5 linked regions of the Homo sapiens genome follow. The protein of the gene in region 3 purifies or fractionates together with the protein of the main gene of each other region. This does not show direct contact. Each region holds a gene or a part of one and is shown on either strand. Other genes may lie near its edges.

Region 1 (4,178 bases), on a different chromosome or scaffold from region 3:
CTGGTGGCTTAAACAGCAGAAATTTATATTGTCAAAGTTCTGGAAGCTCTAAGTCTGAGCCCAGGGTGCAGGGTGCTGGCATGGTTGGGTTCTGGTGAGGACCCTCTTCCTGGCTTGCAGATATCTGCCTTCTTACTGCATTCTCAAATGACAGGGGTGGGGTGGGGCAAGGGGGTGTTTTCCTCTTTTTGTAAGACTGTGAATCCTGTTCTCATTACCTGATGGCCCCACCCTCATGACTTAATCTAACCCTCACTACCTCCCAAAGGTCCCGTCTCCAAATACCATTACACTGGGGGTCAGAACTTCATTGTATGAATTTTGGGGGGACACATTCTTTCCATGAGATGGAATGAACTTCAATAGTATATTTTACTGGCCTGGCACAGTGGCTCATGCCAGTAATCCCAGCACTTTGGGAGGCTGAGGTGGGAGGATCACGAGGTCAAGAGATCGAGACCATCCTGGCCAACGTGGTGAAATGCGTCTCTACTAAAAATACAAAAATTAGCTGGGTGTGGTGGCACACGCCTGTAGTCCCAGCTGCGCCAGAGGCTGAGGCAGGGGAATGGCATGAACCCGGGAGGTAGAGGTTGCAGTGAGCCGAGATCATGTCACTGCACTGCAGCCTGGTGACAGAGTGAGGCTCCGTCTCAAAAAAAAAGTATATTTCACTGAATTTGATATATACAAAGTAATTTCAGCCTGAGATCAGTATTAAAACGAGACATTTTGCATTCCATTTTTGTACTGTCATCAAAATCCAGTGTGTGCCTTACAGAACATCCTCAACTCTAACTTTCCACATTTCCAGTGCTCTGCAGAACATTTGGTTAGTGGCTACCATATTAGACAATGGAATCTCAGAAGGGAAGGTAGAATTTATGGTGTAATAAATGTCACATGGTGCTTGTCACAAGATCAGTCAGTGGTTAGTTGGTTCTTTAATAATTCTTCAAGTCTTTTGTGGTCTGTGCTTGGCCGAGTGTCCTTGGGAAACAAGCCATTTGGCTCTTGCATTTCAGTGGACATCCTGGACACTCAATGCTGTATCCTACAAGAACTCCTGACACCTGTCTCTGTACTCTGTACTTGGGGTTCAGATCAAAGGGCTTATGGGGGTGGGGTAAACAGTATTCTAAGTGAAGTGACCAGAGCTCTTGGAGAGGGACCTGCCTCCTGTCTATCCCATCAGGAAGTGCAGGCCCTGATTACTCTGATAGGCTGACCCAAAGAAGTTTCTTGGCCACTTCCTTGGGGGAGGGCGGAGGGAGTGAGCTCATGAAGTGAAGTGACTTTCATCCCTCAGGCCTAGTGTAGCGGTAGCTGCCAAGGACATGGGCTACAGAGCCATGGGCCGTGGGTGCCCCTCCCAGAGAAGAGTGTTTTCTGCTACCTGTCCTTGTATCTGCTGGGCACTCGAGGCTCTGCCCTGTCTGGGTGGGCTGCCTTTTGGGAGGAATGGGTATCCTCCCTAGCTCTTAGGGGCCCTTTCAAGGCAGATGATGTGAGAAACCTGCCCATCTTTCCAGGCCCTATAGCTGGGTAAAAACATAAGATCTAAACCCTATGGCCTCCCATCACTTGGGTGGGCCTCTACTGTGTACTACTCTGTGGGTCTTTCTGGGCATCAAGAATCTCCAGAAGCACCTGGACCTCTGCTGGCACTTCACCTAAGGAACTCCTGTTATAAGGAGCCAATGAAGAGCCCACATTCTATACAGTGGTCCTCCATGTCATAGACCCCTCTGAGAATCTGATGAAAGCTGTGGACCCTTCCTCCAGGAAAATGTAAATCGGTATATGTGTGCATGTGTGTGTACATTGTATGCACCCACTCTGTTTTGTACAGATACTGGGAACCTACTGCCCCCTGATTAGACTCCTTGAAGTCCTGGCTGCCCTGCACATATCCACTGTAGTAGTCTTAAGGGGCAGCTTGTTCTGCGGGGGAGGGGTGCTTTTTCCACCTTGGTACCTCACTTACTTTGCCTTTTGTGATCCTGCCGGATGTTCAGATTCTAGCCCTGGTCTCTCTTTCCAGAAAGCTGTCCTCTTGAGTGCCAGCCTATGCATTCAGCCCCTCTGCTTGGGAGCTCAGGGTAGTGCAAATGAGAACCAAGGAGTATCGGTTCAGGAGTTTAGATCCACTCACGGATACTGACCTGTCACCATGGATTGGGATCTGGAGGGTTGAGGACTGGGTCTGGATAATATTTTTGCTAGTGACTGTAGATAGACTCTAGATAGTCCTGAGGCAGGGTCCTGGTTGCATGGGCCTCACTGTAGAACAGGGTTTCTCAACCTTGACACTATTACATTTTGGGCCTGATGATACTCTGTTGTGTATGGGTAGTGGTGGGTTGAGCTGTTCTGTGCATTGTAGGATATTTAGCAGTATCCCCGCCTCTACCCACAAATTCCAGTAGATCCTCTTTAATCATGTCAACCAAAAATGTTTCCAGATCTTGCTAAATGTCCCTGGCAGAGGTGAGAGCAAAATCATCTCAGATTGGGAACCACTGATCTAGAATGTTCTCACGCTTTCAAAGAGGTCTACAGTTGTAAGAAGTAGGGGTAACGGCTTTTGAGTGCATATCCATCCCCCCACTCTGGATGCAGGGTTGGAGGTGAGGTTCTCCTCAAAGCCTAGGAGATTCCTGCTTAGTGAAATCTGCTCAGCACGTGAGAGTTTGGTTCAAAATTAGTGGTTCTGGTGTACAGCTTACCACCGAGGAGAATCCTGGCGTCCTTGAGTTTTCCCAGAAGTGGTTCAGGTTTCAGGGAGGCGGAGGCTGTGGGTGGCTGGGCAGCCTGCCTGCCCGCACCCGCCCACTCGCCTCTGACCGTTGCCTTAAGGCTGGCACTCAGCCTCTTCCTCCCGTACACGCAGAAATGCCAGGAAGTGCCTGTTGCTGGGGACTCTCTGCCTGCCCAGCAGCCCCTCTCTGCTCACCTGGGGGCCTCAGGAGCTAAGGCTAGCCCTGTCTGCCAAGCGGAGCACTGGGGTTGTAGCAGGCCGTGGGCATGCCCCTTCCCCTGAGTGGACCTGCCATGTGGCGCTCCGGGGAGCCGCAGAGGCTGTGGGCCTGGAGCCCCCAGGCCGGGGACACCAGGGCAGGTGGGCAGCCTCTCCCCAAAGGTATGGGTGCAAGTCTCTCCCTCAGGGTGTGGTGGCCAGATGGGAATCTGAGGGCAGGGCCAGGCTTCCTGCTGTGGACCTGGGGAGGTGTGGGCAGCGCTGCCTTAGACAGGCAGCCGACACTGGAGGCCCTGGTGGAGCGGTTGGTATCTGTGGAGGCTTGTCTATTGGGCTTGGCAGGCTGGCAGCCCCCTGTGGCTGCCCCCATGTTTATTTTCTACTCCTCCCCTGGCCTGCTTCAAGCTTGGCTAGGGAACGCTTCTGTGGGACTCTGTCTGTCTCATCTTGAACTCAGTGAGACACAGTTTGCTGCACTGGGAAGTGATTACAAACTGGACTCTTAGGGTGGAGGAAGCATTTTTCAAAGACCCAGTTTCCAAGTGCTCCACATCACTGGTATGTGAAGTGCTTGCTGAGGTTCAGACTTCCTAGTTCCATCTGTTTTTGGGGTCTTTACAAAGGGGACTTTATTTCCTTCTCAGAATTCTTTCTCTTCCTTCCCTCCGGTTCTATCACTAATTCTGTGTTCCAAAACAGACACCCACCCCCTTGTTCTGGGCTTTCTTTTTTGGTCTCTCATTCTCTACCAGACTTACGGGTCCATCCCAGCCCTAGAGGTGCCTATTCCTTGTGGTCCTGGGGGTACTGCTACTGAATGCCCAGGTTTTCTGGTGGTGGAAATGCTGCTGCCTTCTTCTGACTCTATTACATTGCTCAGTGATGTCTCTGACTAAGGCAGTGGTAGGTACTGGAAATCAATGGATAAAGCAGGCTGGGATTGTTCAAGGGTCAGCCATGTCTCTTCCCGGCCCAGGACCAATAATGGCTTCCCGCCTTCGGACAGCCCCATGCTTTCCCCTGGTTATTCTAGGCTTGCTGTACACATGCATGTGCCTTTTTCAGATTCTTTCTGGGACTGGCAGCTCCAACTGGGTGTTTTCATTCATGGACGCATGACCTCTGGAAGCGGGTGTGGAAAGGAAGCCTGTCCCACTGGGCAAATGTGAGGCCCTCTTCCCAGGGGAATGTTGTCTGG
Region 2 (4,178 bases), on a different chromosome or scaffold from region 3:
GAAGGCAGGGTGTTGCCTTGTTTGACCTCAGTTGGGAATGCATGTGGTGGGTGTTTCAGATGTTTCACTATTCTGTGCATGGCTGTCAGTGAGCAGGAAGGTACCATGAATGTTGATATTGGGGTTACAAATAAATTTGCATTAACCATATTTTGTTAGAACTGTATACAAAAGTGGTAGAAATAAAATTGTAGAATTTCACTAAACCAGAATTTTAATACATGTAGTTAGAAGTCCCATTTCCAGACTGCAAACTAAACATATGCATGTTGAGTACCTACCATGGTGATCTAGGGCAGTGGTCCCCAATCTTTTTGACATCAGGGACTGGTTTCGTGGAAGATAATTTTCCCACAGGGGAAGTAGGGGAGATATGATTTTGGGATGAAACTGTTCCACCTCAGATCATCAAGCACATCAGGCCGAGGTGGGTGGATCACCTGAGGTTGGGAGTTCAAGACCAGCCTGGCCAACATGGTGAAACCCCATCTCTACTGAAAATAAAAAATTAGCCGGGCATGGTAGTGGCAGCGCATGCCTGTAATCTCAGCTACTCAGGAGGCTGAGGCAGGAGAATAGCTTGAATCCGGGAGGCGGAGGTTGCAGTCAGCCGAGATCACGCCACTGCACTCCAGCCTGGGGAACAGAGTGAGACTCCTCAAAAAAAAAAAAAAAGAAAAGAAAGATCATCAGGCACATCAAGCATGTTAGATTCTCATAAGGTGCATGCAAGCTAGATGCCTCGCATGCGCGGTTCACCGTAGGTTTCCCACTCCTATGAGAATCTAATGCCGCCGCTGATGTGACAGGAGGCAGAGCTCAGGTACCCGCCTGCCACTTACCTCCTGCTGTGTGGCCTGGTTCCTAACAGGCCGTGGACCAGTACCGGTCTGTGGCCCCAGGGGTTGGGGACCCCTGATCCAAAGGGTCCCTTGACACATATTTATTGAGCACCTGTCATATACTAGGCATTGTTGCAGGTGTTAGGGATACAGTAGTAAACGAAAGGAGACAAAATTGCCTTCTCTCAGAAAGCTTACCTTCTGCCAGGTGAGGTGGACAATAAACAAAAGTATAAAATGTAAAGCAGTTGTGCCTACTACAGTCCACCTTCTGCTCCTCACTTCCCCAAGATTCCCCATGTTTGGTGTACACACACCTGCTTCAGGTATTCAGTCAAATGCTAGTCTTTGTAGATAGAATTAAGGTCTCAATCAGTTGACCTTTAGCCATCTAAAGGAGGTTATCATGGTGGGTCTGTCTTGATTGAACTAGCCCTTTCAAAGCAGAGAGATTTCTCAGCTGATTGCACAAGAGGAAATCAGATGTTCCAGCTGGCTTGGAAGCAAGCAGACGTCCATGTTGTGAACTGCCGATCCCAACAGCCACATGGCAAGGAACTGCAGGCAAACTCTAGGAGCTGAGAGTGGTTCCCAGCTGACAGCTAGGAGGAACATGGGGACCTCAGTCCTTCATCTGCAAGGCAGTGGATCTTGTCAACAACCAGTAAGCTTGGAGGAGGACCCAATCCTAGATGAGAAGGCAGCCCTAACTGGCACTGTCGGTGCTGTGCCTGGACTTCTGACCTGTAGGAACTGTGAAATAGTAACTAGGTGGTGGTTTAAAAAATGTATGCATTGGGTGGGGGTGAGTCAAATGGTGATGGTGAAAATAGGTAAAGCAAGAGAGGGGAATAATGAGAAATACCCCAAGATAGGCATGAGGGTACTTGAGACCTGGTGCCCAGCCATCCCATCACTCACATATAAAAATAAATCCTTTGACCACATGTGGCTTTCATCTGACTATAACTTTTTTCTAGATATTTGTGAGTGGAGGGGAGAGGGGATTGTGGATGCTTTGGAAATAAGTTTTTTAGGTGCTTGGGATGTTTGAGTTGAGGAATCTGGGAATTGAAGTATTTTCTGGGTTTTTTTTTTTTTTGTGGTAGAGGACTCACCTTGCCCCACATCCTTGTATATTGCTTTGGTATATGTTTGCATATTACCTTTTATACCTGTAGAAGATAAGATTGAATTGTAATCAGTCAGTGTTCATTTCTGATATCCAGGATGTGCCTAGCACCAAGCTGAATGCTGAGAGGGATCCTGAGGAAAGAGTCTGTCCTTGCCCTTTGGAAGTTTACACACAGAGACCGGCCACAGTGGCTCATGCCTGTAATCCCAACACTTTGGAGAATGAGGTACAGGGGATCGCTTCAGTCCAGGAGTTTGAGACTAGCCTGGGCAATATAGTGAGACCTCGTCTCTACAAAACATTTTTAAAAATTACAAGGGCTTGGTGGCGTGTGCCTGTGGTCCCAGCTACTTGGGAGGCTGAGGTGGGAGGATAGCTTGAGACCAGGAGATTGAGGCTACAGCAAACCATGATTGCACCACTGCACTCCACCCTGGGTGACAGAGTGAGATCCTGTCTCAAAAAAAAAAGTTTACACACAAATGGACTTTTTTTCTGCTTGTTGGAACTACCACAAACTATGAGGAGTTCAGGTGACAATTGTAATAAAAGCATCTGATTTGCTGAATGTTTACTATATACTAAAGTATTATGCTAAGCACCTGTGTTGTATCATTTACTCTATGTAGTTATTCTTTGAGGGGCTAGGGGCTCTTATTCCCATTTTACAGATGAGAAAACTAGGGCATAGAGAAGTTAAGCAGTGGGTCCAAAGTCTATCCAAGTCCAAAACATGTGCTCTAAATATTGTACTGTGCTATAAACTGTGAGTACTGTAAAAGTGACCTTCTAACCAGGCTCTCTGCCTTCAATCTCCCATTTGTTTTCCATCCTACGGCTAGATCTAACTTTGGAAATGCACCCTGTTTGTCTGACCTAGAGGTTGTGTGGCTTCTAGGATCAACTCTAGACCCCTTAGCTTAGCATTGCAATCAGTTTCATCTGGTCTTAGTCTCCCTGACTCTTCTTGCCTTTGGCTGGAACCTTGGCATTGTTCGAACTGTCAATTTACTCTGAACCCAGTGTAGCTAATATTTTTTCACAGCCCTTTGCTTTCCCTTTTCCTTTTCTCTGGAATGCTTCTCCCCACTTCTCTTCCTAGCCAAACCCAGCGTCCTCCAGTGTGGACCTTCGTCCTCTTGTGTTCTCCCGGTCAGTGATTCCATCCTCTCTGCTTTTCCCCTCAGCCTGTATTGGTAGTTGGAGTTGCACTGTTTATAGTTGTCTTCTCCCACTCTCCATGCCCAAAGAATTGGTGCGGGGAGCTGGCTTATTTGTTATATGGCTTCGGCCTGCACAGAGCCTTGCATGTTTCAAGTACTTAATAAGTTTGTTTAATTGAATTAATTCATTTCTTTTCCATCCTCTCAGTAAAATCCTAGGTAAATAATTCCAATTCTGTTTTGCTCTAATGTTATTATAATCTTGTATATATAGTATTTTAAACCTACTCAAAAAATGCCGCAAACATTTGTGAGTTACTTGGAACATCATAATCTCTCTTTCTACCTCACCTCTTTCATCTCTGTTTATCCTACCACCTACCCATTTTATTCCAGCCAAATGAACTTGATCTCTCAACCTCATTAGTTTTATTCTCAGTTTGGCTGATTTCTTTTTTCCTTTTCCATTGTCCCAGTTGCCTGAAACAATCATTCCTATCCCTCTTCTCACTCAAAACTGTGACATACACGGTCTCCTCTCCATTCGTCCATACTATAATAAATAGGTCAGGAAGAAAATACCAGGGATAAATATCCTTCCCTGCTCTATTGAGCCAGAAGTATGTTTATTCAGACTCAACAAAGAAAACAGTGGTTTTACATGTTCATCATAAACTGATATCAAAGGAGAAATGCAATTTCCTGATTGTCTAAATATGACAGCTGAGTCTGCACACATAGGTCCCAGGAACATTGGACACACTCCCTCATAATGAGGCCCACTCATTTCAGTCTTACCTTGACATTCTCTTGGGCAGCAGGTGGGCCCTTGCTAGATGTTCAGGTATTTACAGTCAGCCATAAATTAAGTTGCAATGACAGGTCTCCTTAGCATAAACATCAAACGTCTCTTCTGAGTGAGAACAAAGCTTTCATTCTCTAACTGAGACTTAAGGTTGAACTTGTTTAAACAGCTCTCTAGGGCTGGGTTTGTCTCCAAGTAGAATGTCAGAAAGGCAGTTTGTAGAATGGATATAG
Region 3 (4,062 bases):
CATACATCCCTCAGAGGCTAGCTACAGGCTAAAGTGTGTGTTCCCCACAAGACAGAGGTCAGAGCAAGGCAGCTGCAAGCTCCTGGCCTGCTGGAGCCTCCTGACCTGCTGGGGCCTCTGCCTGTCTGCACCTGAGCACCAGGGCCTGGCCAGGTAAGCAAGGCTGAGGGTGGGGCGTGTGCAGGAAATCCCAAGAGGAGAACAAAGAAGGGGGGCAGTTCTCAGAGGTAATCCAGTATCTGGCTTCTTCATCTACTCACGGATGCCTCCAAGACCCTAAACTCTATACAAAAGCTGAACACAAAACTTGAGAAGGACTATGGAAGACCCTGGCACTTGACACCCAAGGGATGTGGGGAATGATATTATGTGGGGAATAAAGAGGGTGCTCTTTACTCCAGAGAGGGGTTACCCTGCAAAGCTTTGTCGAAAGTATGCAAAGGCACAAATTGGACATTTGACGAACACTTTTGATTCTAGCTATGATTTGTGTACACCCAATTTCACAACTTACAGCTACTTGGACATAGAAAAGCACAGTGTGGGTAAGGGCACGTGCATACAAATGCTAGAAGCCTGGGCACAGACTGGGGTAGATTCCGGAATTGAGGTAGGAGGAAATAGCACCTACTTCTTTGGTCTCTCCTTGGCCTGCCCTCCCCTTTCACTGCCTATGAAGTTGGAGCCTACATCATGTCCCTGAAACTGCACAGAGAAAACTACGACATGTACCCTTTTAAGTTTACCGGAGCCTTGAGATAAAGTTGCCACTTGATGTGTGTGCTGGGACACCCACTCCCCTCGGCCGGTCTGAGGCGCCTCCCCTGGTGGCTCCCACGCTCCAAGGGCACCCGGGGGAGCACCCGCAGCTGCGCCGACCCGCAGTGTCACAGAGAGAAGGGCACGGAAGGGGATGGGGACGGGGACCCGGGGCCCCCCCGGCCGGCGCAGCGCGCTCACCGGGCCCGCAGAGCCGGCTGAAGTGGTAGGGGTTGCAGCACACGGTAGGGCCGTCGGCGGCGGCGGCGAAGCTGTGGCAGCCGCACAGGGGCTTCAGCTCCACGGCGTGCTGCAGGTCGGGCCAGCGAAAGAGGCGGCCGAGCAGCAGCTGCGGCGGCGCGGGCTGGCCGCCCAGGCGGAGGTCGGCGCGCGGCACCAGCACGCAGCCGCCCGGCACGCCGCCGCGGGACTCCACCGCCTCCAGCAGCGTGTCCAGCGAGCGCTCCTTGAGCCGCTTCAGCAGCGAGTACGTGACGGTTTTGAGTTCCTGCTCCAGCAGCAGCAGCCGCGAGCGCGCTTCGCGACTCCGCCCGCCGCCCGCCGGCTCCAGGGCCGCCCCGGCCAGGGGGTCGCTGGCGTCCCGGGGCGCGCCGGCGGCGTCCCGCTCCGAAAAGAGACAGCAGGTCACCGTCTCGCAGTCACTCTCGGGCAGCCAGCCCGGGCCTCCCGGCTCCGCCACGTCCAGCAGGGAGCTCCCAGCGCCGGCCCCTGGCTCCGACATGGGCCTCGGGGGGCCCCCTGCGCGCCGGCGCCTCCCCGCGCCCTGGGCGCCTCGCTGTCCCACTGCGTCCCGGGGCCGCCGCGGGGCTACCGGGCGGACTTCGGAGCGGCCGCAGCCTCCGCCCTCTCTTGCCCGCGGGGCCGGCTCAGCTCGGCTGCCCAAGCTCCCATCCTCGTCGCCGCCACCGCCGCCGCCGCTGCCGCCTTCCTCCCGGTCGGGGACCACACGACTTCGCCAAAGTCGCCGCACCAGCCCCGAGCGTTTGGACCTGAACATACGATATCCTTTGGCGCCAGGGGTGGGGGGGAGGCGGTCTCCGGTTACCGGGGGTCCGTTCCCTCAGCGAGGCGCCGGCTGCGCGGGTCGCAGCCCCACATGAAGCTCCGCCGCGGAGCGCCGTGCAGACCGCGCACAGCCTGTCGTCGAAGGGGCGCCGCAGGGCGACAACATGAGGGAGCTCGCCGAGGCGGGACGGCCGGGAACACGCGCACGCCGAGCCGCAGTCCGCGCGCGGCCAGCGGCTACATGGACCACAGCGGCGGGGCTGCTCAACAACTCCAGCCCCCGCGCTTTAGGGGGGCTGCAGGCGGCGCGCCGCCAGAAAGACCCCACATGGGCCGGCGAGCCTTCAAAAGTTGTGCGGCTGGTCCATGAGCACAAAGCGCTCGCGCGAACCCCTAAATGTGTCTGGAAAGCCCTGCCTTTACCTTGCCTTTTTTTTAAACCAAAGCGCTTAACTACATGGGCTTTTCCCGCAGGATCCGAAAGGCAGGCTTGTTGATACCCCCAGCTCCCTTCTTACTCCCTGCAAAAAGAAAAAAAAAAGGAAAGAAAGAAAAGGAAATCCCAAACAAAACCTAAATCCCTGGATTTGCATGCACGAAAGGCCAACGCCGTCTCAGGTCCCAGGCGCTAGATGCACTTGGAGCGAGTTTCTCCTGGACGCGGGTGTCAACACATGAGTGGAAGCTGTAAAAATCCCAAAGAGCTGCTGGGAATCCTTAATTAAAAATGCAGTCCACCGATGCAGAGGTCGCAGCCCGCCCCACGCTGCCCTCGGACGCTTCGTGCGCCGAGGCTGCCGAGGTCGCCCCCCCTCCCCCCTCCACAAAAGTGCCTCCCGGTGGCCCCGGGGTCCCAGCGAGGTCTGGCGAGGCAGCGCCCGGCGGCTCTTTCTCTCGGCTCAGCTCCCTCGATCGCTCCCCCGCTCGGCTCTCTCTCTCTTTTTTGTTCTCCTCAAACGCACACTGAGGGCCCCCGGAGGAGCGCCGCGGAGTCATTGGCTGCCTCCCATCATATGCCAGTCTAGACACTTTGGCGGCTCCGCGGCGCTGATTGTTGCGCAAACAAGGTTTCAAGTTTCTTAACTCTTAAAGGAGAACACGTCCCATTGCAGGGCCGGAGGCTCCAAGGGGCCGGCTCCCGGGGCGGGCCGAGCTCGGGCCCCCGCCCCACACCACCCCGGCACCCCCGCCCAGGGCCTGACAGCGCCCGCGGCCCGCTTTCTGCCTCGCGTTGCGCCCAGAGCACGGATGCGAGCGAGCACACACGCGCGCGCGGACACACACACACACACACACAGGGTTACACGAGCCACGAGCAGGCGCGCAAGGCTCGGCGGACCCACTGAGACTCGGACGCAAACGGGGCGCTTTGCCTCTCCCTGGCTTGTGCACAAACTTACAAACACACTTTGCACTTTAAAGTTGTTCCAAACCCCCATCCTAGGGTAGGCTAATAAAAATGGGTGTGCATGTGTGCCTTCCAGGGTTGAGCCTCTGAGGAGCAGGGGGCGGCGGATATGTTGGGGTAGCGGATCTTCCGTGACTGCACTAGGGGCTCTACGCTCCTTGCACAAAGTCGGGGGTCGCTCTGCCGGGCCAAACAGGGAGCTCAGGACGCTTTGCGTACGGTGGCTCCAGGCTCGCCCGGAGTGGGGAGATGGAGAGGGTGGGGTAGAGGCGGGGAGTGTCTACTCGCTGGCTCCTCTCGGTCGCCACGGCCCTCCCTTGGAGCGAGGCGGGCCGCCGGCCGGCCGGGCCCCCTCCAGGCCGGGTGCTTCCTCTCCCTTCTCAAGTTTACTCTCCGCACCTCGGAGAGGGCTGTAGGTGAGGGATCACGCTTTCCCTAGAGAGGTTTCCACGCGAAAATGGGGGTGGGTTGGGGGCGGGATCGGGGGCGCGGCGGCAGCAGCCTGACGCCCGGCGCGGGAAGGGTTAAGGCCGCTCCTGCCCCTGGAGCCGGCGCGGCGGGGTACCTCCTCGGGCGCGCTCGCTAGTCCGAGGGTGGCAAAAGTTCAAGCTTGTAAAGTCGGGATTGGTCCCGCGCGGAGGGGAAAAAAGGCCTGGGCCCCCCTCCCCCCCCGGGCGCGGCGCCGATTGGCCAGGCAGAGGGGCCGGCCCCGCCCTCTCCCCCCGCGCGCGGCGGCCCCACCCCCGGCGCGGCGCCCCGCCCCTTTCCGGGCAGGAGCCTGGCCCCGCGCTGAATGAAAGAAATTCCGCTACTCTCATTGGCCCGGGGCTGGGCGCCATTCCCCCGCGGTGACCGCGGGGCGCCGGCGG
Region 4 (4,178 bases), on a different chromosome or scaffold from region 3:
TCACTGGAATCCACAGGCAGAAGTTAGTGTTGACTGGCAAAGTCTGGCTTTGCAGGTTTCATAATTTCTTTGAGACCCCTTAAAGGAAATGACTGAAAAGTACGGGGTAGGAAGTTAGTCTAGTACTGCCAAATGCCACTGAGGCAAGTTTCAAAGGGGAAGCCAAAGGATGTTTCCATTTGATTTAAGTTCAGCCTCTTCTGGGTTGTCAGAATGTCACTTTTGTATTTTAAGAGTTCTATCATTTCAGAATATGATGTATTATGGTTTTCTAGTAGGTCAGGTGGTAAGGACTGTAGATAGTCATTATGCTTCGTGGACAACTAATGTTTTTAGGCAGAAGCTTCTATAGCTGATAAAGATTTTAAGCCAAAGACTTAGAATTGAAAACTAATATATACATACACATTTTACCATAATACATCAATGTAGACCTATCCTAGTATTTATTAGGTTAGAAAGGCTTTTTGGATTATTTTATTATACAGATATATTTAACTGTAAATATTAAAATTTCATAATGACTAATATATGATGGCACTGAGGTGGCTTTAGGAGCTCCTTTGGGGTGGGGGCGGGAAACATGTTATTCCAAAAGTTACATTTATGTCTTTGAGGACAGTAAAGCAGATTTAAAAGCCAGTGAGAAAAGGAAGAAAATCAGCAAAGTGAAGAAAACCTGATGAAGATGTTTTTAAATAATACAATGTAAAGATTGTTGGCAGCATTTATATATAAGGGACAAAATTCTAGTTGAAGTCTATAAACAGTGAATTCCACTTAGCACTTTCTGTTTATAGATTTCTAGCCATCTTTTCCAGATTCCCTCTGAATATATTACACAGGCAAAGTAAATAGAAGTCATTCTTTCAAGGGATTTGGGTTCTTGGAGATTTTTTTACACTTGTGGTAGTGGGGGAGGGGAAGTGCTTATTATATTTTCTTAGTTTTAAGTGTGACCTGTGCCATAGAATATTTCCCTAGACTAATGTGTGGGAACCTCAAGACAAGAATTATTGGTCATTGAAAGATCTGGATATGATTTCAAGTTCTGCCCCTAGGTTTTTTTTTGTTTGTTTGTTTTTTTTTTTTGCATGTTGTCTTGAGTAGATCACTTCTATTTTTCCTTCAAAGGCTGAAAATAACTGCCTAACATACTATGTTTAGTAGGTCCTAAATACTTTTTGTTGTTTAATGAATTTACAGGTAATAAAGAGAAAGCACAGTGTTTCTTGAATGGATGTCAGGGAATTTCTAATTTTTTTCTTTTTTGATAGAAAAAAGTAATCAAAACATAAACATCTGATTGGAGTCTTTCAGTTAGCTTACCTACCTTCAGAAATAAGCCTAGAGAAAGAGAGCTTCATCTGGTAGTTTAACAGAAATGAATTGTAAATGACTCTTAAGAAGAATTGACAATTTTTCGGAATGTTGTACTAGATGTTTTAGATTCTTTTTGCCACATAAACTCCACTTCAGAGAAATGGGGTTCTACATAGTACTCTTGTATCGCCCCTGTAATACCTTTACACCTCAAAATACCAGTTGCAGAAAAATAGAATGTGTTGCTGATGCCTATAAATGGGAAAATCCTGACATCTGTCTTCATCCTCCAGTTAATCTTCATGTAGTTTTTAAAAAAATTAATTCAACACACATGTAATTTACTTCCTTTTCAGAAAATTTGTTGCTAATTTTTATTTTATAATGAGCCTCTTGGGATGTTGCTAATTCTAAAAATATGTAATACCCGCGGTTTCCCACCATCTTCTGCAGTTTCTTTTTCTATTATTTTTTTGGCTACAGTTTTCTTTTTCCCCTAAGCTGTCTAAAATAAGCTAAGAAATGTTTAAATGTAGTTGACAAGAAACACAGTCAGTAATTTATCATGCTAAAATTTCAACATACAAGGTGCAATGAAATCTGTTTTAGGGATAGTACACTTTTGAAGGGGGCTAAAGCAGGGACAGCAAATAAATTTCGTTTGGGGTACCAAATCTGATTGTTTAGTGGTGGCTGCCTAGAGTGCTGTGTTTAGAAAACTGGGAGTCCTTGTTCAAACTTAGCAGGAAAGAGTACTGTGATTAGCAATTTCTGCTGTTGGTGAGCGGTGGACTTTTGGCATGGATGCCAAATACATTCAGTGTTTATTGATGCCGTTTACATGTCACAGGTCTAGATGCTGATACCTCATAGACTAAAATCTCTGCTTTCATGGTGTTTACATTCTAGTAATAAGACACAAACCATAAAATAAATAAAATACATTGCGTTTTAAGAAAAATGGCTGGGCGCAGTTGCTGACACCTGTAATCCTAGCACCTTGAGAGGCTGAGGTGGGAAGATCCCTCTTGTCCAGGAGTTCAAGACCAGCCTGGGCAACGTGGTGAGACCTTGTCTCTACAAAGAAGTTTCTTAAAAAATTAACTGGACGTGGTCCCAACTACTCGGGAAGCTGAGGTGGGAAGATCACTTAAGCCTGGGAGATTGAGGCTGCAGTGAACCATGATTGCACCACTGCACTCCAGCCTGGGCAACAGAGCGAGACCCTGCCTCAAAACAATAGAAGTTAAAAAATAAATAAAAGAAAAATGACCTGATTTATTCAAAAAATTAATAGCAAGAAATAGGGAGGGAGAACTATAAGATTAAAAGAGACTTAAGAGGCTTTTCCACCAAATGCAATGTATGAAGCTTAGTTCTATCCTGCTTTGAGCAAACTAACTGTAAAAAGACATTTATTCAAAATTGGGGAAATTTAGACTCTGGATATTTAATGAAAAGGATTTGTCCATTTTTTCAGGTGTGAGAATGTACTTTTTAAGTGTTCTTTTAGAGATGTATAATGAAGTGTTTACAACTTAAAATGTGATGTGTGGGTTTTTACTTCAAAATATTGAAAGGGAGAGGAACATAGATGAAACAAGATTGGCCATATATTGAAAATTGCTGAAGGTAGATGCTATATGGATACATGAGGTTTCTTACTTCCTCTTTATTTTTGTGTATGTTTGAAATTTCCCCTAATAAACAGTTTTACACACAAACAGGAAAATAAAGCAGGGAAGGGGAAGGGAGAATAAATGGGATATGTGTATGAGGTTCGGAGGAGGATGCAGTTTTTTGCTTTTTGTTTCTTGTTTTTTGTTTTTGAGATGGAGTTCTGCTCTCATCACCCAGGCTGGAGTGCAGTGGGGCGATCTCAGGTCACTGCAAATTCTGTTTCCTGGGTTCAAGTGGTTCTCCTACCTCAGCCTCCTGAGTAGCTGGGATTACAGGCACACGCCACCACGCCCAGTAGAGTTTTGTATTTTTAGTAGAGACAGGGTTTCACCATGTTGGCCGGACCGGTCTGAAACTCCTGACCTCAGGTGATCACCTACCTCCGCCTCCCAAAGTGCTGGGATTACAGGTGGGAGCCACCACACCTGGCCAAGATGCAGTTTTAAAGGGTAGTGAGAAAAGACTTCATTGAGAAGATGATAAATAGTTAAAGTGAGTAATGACCTGAAGGAGGTAGCACAGCAAGCCTTGCAGGTCTCCTTGGAGCAAGACATTATACACAGAGGGAATAGTAAGTGCAGTGGCCCTGAGATGGGAGCGTGCCTACAACTGCAAGAAACTACAAGAAGACAAGGGTGTGAGCCAGGCATAGTGGCTTGCACCTGTAGTGCCAGCTACTCAAGAAGCTGAGGTGGGAGGATCATTTGAGCCCAGGAGTTCCAGACCAGTCTGAGCAGCATAACCAGATCCTGTCTAAAAAAAACAAAACAAAACAAAAAAAACTAGCGTAACTAGATCAGGGTGAGCGTGAGTACATAAAATCAGCATCAGCATGGGAAAGGAAGGTTAGAGAAGACTAAATTGTGTAGGGCTGGTTATCCATCTTTAAAGGAAAAATATTTTATACACTTATCTAAAATAAGTCTTATACTTTAGAGTAGTCACCATGGAAGCTATACACTTAACAATACTAGCATTACTCAATATTTTTAGAAAAAAAAATTTTTTTTGTCGTCTAAGCCAGTTTAAGAGCCACACGTGAAAATAGCTCATTACTTTGTATTTGCTCCTTGTTTTTAAGGAAAAAAGGGGTGATTGGCCACGTGATATTTCATGTTATTTATCAGATATGACTCACAGAGGATCTTGACAGAAAGAAAATGGGAAGTAACTTG
Region 5 (4,139 bases), on a different chromosome or scaffold from region 3:
GGCCATCTTTGACTCATAAAATTACCCTTACTGTTTATTATAACTTCAGAAGTAATTTATAGTTCTGAACCTATAGTATCTTTTACCCTGTTCCCAAGCAAAGACTGGTGACTTTATCTGAAAATGATTCCTCTTCCCATGACCTAAAACACTGTGAGGAAAAATCATTCAAGTGGCATGCCAAGTCCCTATGAAGGAAGGGCTGCTATCAAACCTACCTTTTTTGAGCAAACTGAGACTAAACTTCTCTCTTTTCAAAATTGTGTTATCTTCCTTAATCCTATTTTCATAATTTTTCCTTTTGCCAGTTTTTCACATTATCTTTGATATGTGAGCAACATTTATTATTTACATTAGAGTATACCTTTTAGTAATAAAATGACTTGAAATCATATTATTTTTAAAAGCCCTTTGCTTCTTTCATTACTTATAATCTCCTCTAAAACAACCTCTGCATGTTTTTTTTAAATAAAGCACTTTCTGTCAAATAATGGACTTTTTTCTAAACAGAAATTATTTTCTATTAATTTGCAAACTGATGATTTCACTTTTTTTTACTTTTTTTTCGATTATCAGAGTACTTAGTAAATGTTATATAGTTTAGTTCTAAGATAGTTCCAGGGATTAAAAGGTTAAGAGGAAAACACAAATCACCAAATTTCTGATTTATGTTTTTATCTCCTGAACAATATTTTCTCACTCATATTCCTCTATCTTATCACTTAGCTAAAGACAGCCTAAATTTCCCAATTTTCTGTCCAAAATATTTGTGATTTACTTGTATATAAGCCTTCTCATTTGCCATGTGCTGTGATCTTACAAGTTAGATGTTACTATACCTACCATTTATTCAGCTGGATTGCTGAACACAGTTCTGGATTCATAGAATTAAGAATATCTTGTTAGTGCCCAGGATTTCCACGTTTTGTGTTTTATTGGCCCTTTTCTTTATTCAGCCCCTTAATCTATTTTCAGTCTTCTGGCACGTAATTTTTTTCACAGTTATTATTCTTCTATTAACAAATTATTTTTATCTTTCCTAGTACATTTTCACTTAGTTCTCTTGCCCTTAAATATCTTTCACATGCATTTTAGGATATTCTTTTCAAATATTTGTAGGACAACTTTGAATCAAAATAAATTATGTTCCTTCTCCAATTTGAAGCATTGAGGATAAATGACCATTTGAGGTCTAACTGATCTTTTCCTGCCAGAAGAGTTATCTTACGTTCTGCTATATTTGTATTTGGGCCAGTTGATTGTAGGTTGTCCAACATTTTTTAATATTGGGAAAATTATGATAAAATGCTTTAAAAATTAATATGCCAGATTAAAATAACTGAATAGTTTACTATTTCATTCAAGCATGTTTAAAACAAATAATTTCCTTTCACCAGTTTTTCTTAGTAAACTCCTGAAAAAGTAGGAAAGGTGGAAAGTATATATCATTTTTATAAATTTTAAATTGTACATCAGACTTTTAAAATCTGTAATATACAAGCAAGCAAAATTATTTTAAATGACTTAATTGTATGCTAATACTCATCTGATAATAAATGCTTCTTAAAGTTGACATTTAACTGCTATCACAAAGTTTTATATGTAGAAAAGTGGGGTCCTTTTGAATAAAAGATCATTCAACTAAAAATATTAAAATTTATTTCACTGGATGGTAATGTAACCTTAAAAGCATCATAATAGGTAAAGTCTAATATTAGTTCCCTTAACAAAATCCTAACTGTATACCAGAATTAGGTCACTGAAAGAACTTGATTTGAATTACGTTTAGACAAAAATGATTTAATTGTAAATTCTTAAAACTTTCTAAATGCATAATTGGCAAAAAAAAAAACCCACTGTTACCAGTGTAGGAAGTTACAAGAAGGCACATACTGAATGCTGAAGTATACATATGCTATTTCTCTTAAACCTCAGAGCAACCATATGAGCATTGTAATTAATATTCCCATTTTACAGATGAGGAAACTGAAGCTAAGAGAAGCTAAGTAATATGCCCAAGGTCCACATCTAGTAACAGACAAAGCTGGGATTTCAGTCTATGTCTGCCTCTCTCCACATCTCTTTCATCCATACCACACTGCCTACATGCCATATGACAGGATGTGTAATGGGCTAACGTTTATTTAAAAAGTTCAGGCCAGGTGCAGTGGCTTATGCCTATAATCCCCGCACTTTGGGAGGCCGAGCCGGGTGGATCATGAGGTCAGACGTTCAACACCAGCCTGGCCAAGATGGTGAAACCCCGTCTCTATTAAAAATATTTTTTAAAAATTAACTGAGCGTGGTGGTGGGCGCCTGTAGTCCCAGCTACTCAGGAGGCTAAGGCAGGAGAATCTCTTGAACCCGAGAGGTGGAGGTTGCAGTGAGCTGAGATCGCGCCACTGCACTGCAGCCTAGGCGACAGAGCAAGACTGCCTCAAAAAAAAAACATAAAAATTCAGTCACTATACTCTGGCACAATTTTCATTTGTATATGAGCCAAACCACATACCTTAATGATTTGGGAAGTTAGGCAAATATGAGATATGTAGACATATCTATGCTGATTGTTGCTTGAGAAATAATTACTAATTCTAGACAAAACTCAATCCTGTATCTTCCATCATGAATCTTAAAATCATTTCACTTCACTCCTAACATTTCTTACATTGCAGAACTAATGGTAAAGTAAATTTTACGGAAAAAGTTAAGATAGCTTTGGGAACAGAGACCTTTCCCTAAATTGATTCCATAGCAGATTTGGGGGAATTAACAAAGAATTTCAGTCTCATCAATCCTTTGAATCCATCTTCAAAACTTCTGCTTTTAATAACTTTAGAAAATTTACTAATCTATAGAACTAATTGAGTAGGATATAGGAAGGATACAAGGATATAATGTCCTTTTTATAAAAGTTTAGTATAGCTTCTTTACATGTATCCACTTGTTCCAGAAAATGTGCATTGGTTCTGAATGTGAAAATATTTAAAGAGAGAAAGGAACACTCAAGTAAGTGTGGGCTTCAGTGGGAATTATCACAAAACATTGGCAAGTATTTTTATTTAAATTATTTTCAAATTTGACTTCTACAGCCAAGTGGAATTGGTAGGCTGTAGCTGTTACACTGAAATTTCTAGTCTTTGTAAGTGCCTCCTGAAAGTCATTTAAAATGGAAAAATATTTCAATGAGCTTTTCCTTTTTTCATATTTATGGACATGAATATTTTATTGGAGATCATTAACTCCTAGAATTTGAGATTATATTTCCATACAACATTTTATAAAGTTATGTTGAACTTACTACCTGTTATGTGCAGGTTATTATGTAACTATTCACAGATTGCTTCATATATTGCTTTATCTTCCCATCTAACTTCTTAAAGTTAAAATCCGGACACACATGTTGATTATCTAGACCAGTCATTCTGGAAATTGTAACACTCCCACATAAACCCCAGGAGACTTTTTCAGAATGCAATGTTTCTAAATGTACTGTTACTGGCAGTTTACTCTCCAGCATATAAGGTTGCATTTTAACTTTTAGATTATGAACTGTGCAAACTTTACCCAAAACTATCTTGCATGATTCCCTCCTAAATATATTCCTTGATTAAGTAAATCTGGCAAATCACTGTTTGAGCTAGTTACATAAAATTTGTTATCAAGAGAAGGCTTTTCTACAAGTTTCCAGATTAACATAAAGAAAAGAGGGAATCACAGGGCATTTAAGTGCACCTTCCCATTACTTTCCTTAAATCACCTCATAGTTAGGCTGGGCGCGGTGGCTCACGCCTGTAATCCCAGCACTTTGGGAGGCCGAGACGGTGGATCACGAGGTCAGGGGACTGAGATCATCCTGGCTAACACGATGAAACCTCATCTCTACTAAAAATACAAATAATTAGCCAGGCATGGTGGCACGCGCCTGTAGTCCCAGCTACTCGGGAGGCAGAGACAGGAGAATCGTTTGCACCCGGGAGGCGGAGGTTGTTGCAGTGAGCCGAGATCGCGCCAATGCACTCCAGCCTGGGCTACAGAGTGAGACTCCATCTCAAAAAAAAACAAAAAAAATCACCTCATAGTTTATGTCTGACTTACTCCAAACCTCAGTTATCTGATTTGTAGTCTGTGTCAGGAAA

The links.
Region 1: the proteins of SMAD6 (region 3) and ACVR2B purify together in Homo sapiens (affinity purification with western blotting, with the first as the bait; one study listed by BioGRID). This does not show direct contact.
Region 2: the proteins of SMAD6 (region 3) and ACVR1B purify together in Homo sapiens (affinity purification with western blotting, with the first as the bait; one study listed by BioGRID). This does not show direct contact.
Region 4: the proteins of SMAD6 (region 3) and PELI1 purify together in Homo sapiens (affinity purification with western blotting; one study listed by BioGRID). This does not show direct contact.
Region 5: the proteins of SMAD6 (region 3) and BMPR2 purify together in Homo sapiens (affinity purification with western blotting, with the first as the bait; one study listed by BioGRID). This does not show direct contact.

The regions. Positions count from the first base shown.
Region 1 is NC_000003.12:38,456,548-38,460,725, forward strand, and holds part of ACVR2B (activin receptor type-2B precursor), read left to right. Parts: intron 1-2,883; exon of another isoform or gene 2,884-3,027; coding exon of another isoform or gene 3,028-3,142; intron 3,143-4,178. UniProt on the Homo sapiens protein: Transmembrane serine/threonine kinase activin type-2 receptor forming an activin receptor complex with activin type-1 serine/threonine kinase receptors (ACVR1, ACVR1B or ACVR1c).
Region 2 is NC_000012.12:51,957,985-51,962,162, forward strand, and holds part of ACVR1B (activin receptor type-1B isoform a precursor), read left to right. Parts: intron 1-1,275; exon of another isoform or gene 1,276-1,506; intron 1,507-2,071; exon of another isoform or gene 2,072-2,203; intron 2,204-4,178. UniProt on the Homo sapiens protein: Transmembrane serine/threonine kinase activin type-1 receptor forming an activin receptor complex with activin receptor type-2 (ACVR2A or ACVR2B).
Region 3 is NC_000015.10:66,700,974-66,705,035, reverse strand, and holds the start of SMAD6 (mothers against decapentaplegic homolog 6), read right to left. Parts: upstream 2,801-4,062; 5' UTR 1,778-2,800; coding exon 961-1,777; intron 945-960; exon of another isoform or gene 1-944. UniProt on the Homo sapiens protein: Transforming growth factor-beta superfamily receptors signaling occurs through the Smad family of intracellular mediators. SMAD6 is an inhibitory Smad (i-Smad) that negatively regulates signaling downstream of type I transforming growth factor-beta.
Region 4 is NC_000002.12:64,137,702-64,141,879, reverse strand, and holds part of PELI1 (E3 ubiquitin-protein ligase pellino homolog 1), read left to right. Parts: intron 1-1,093; exon of another isoform or gene 1,094-4,178. UniProt on the Homo sapiens protein: E3 ubiquitin ligase catalyzing the covalent attachment of ubiquitin moieties onto substrate proteins. Involved in the TLR and IL-1 signaling pathways via interaction with the complex containing IRAK kinases and TRAF6.
Region 5 is NC_000002.12:202,560,996-202,565,134, forward strand, and holds part of BMPR2 (bone morphogenetic protein receptor type-2 precursor), read left to right. Parts: 3' UTR 1-4,139. UniProt on the Homo sapiens protein: On ligand binding, forms a receptor complex consisting of two type II and two type I transmembrane serine/threonine kinases.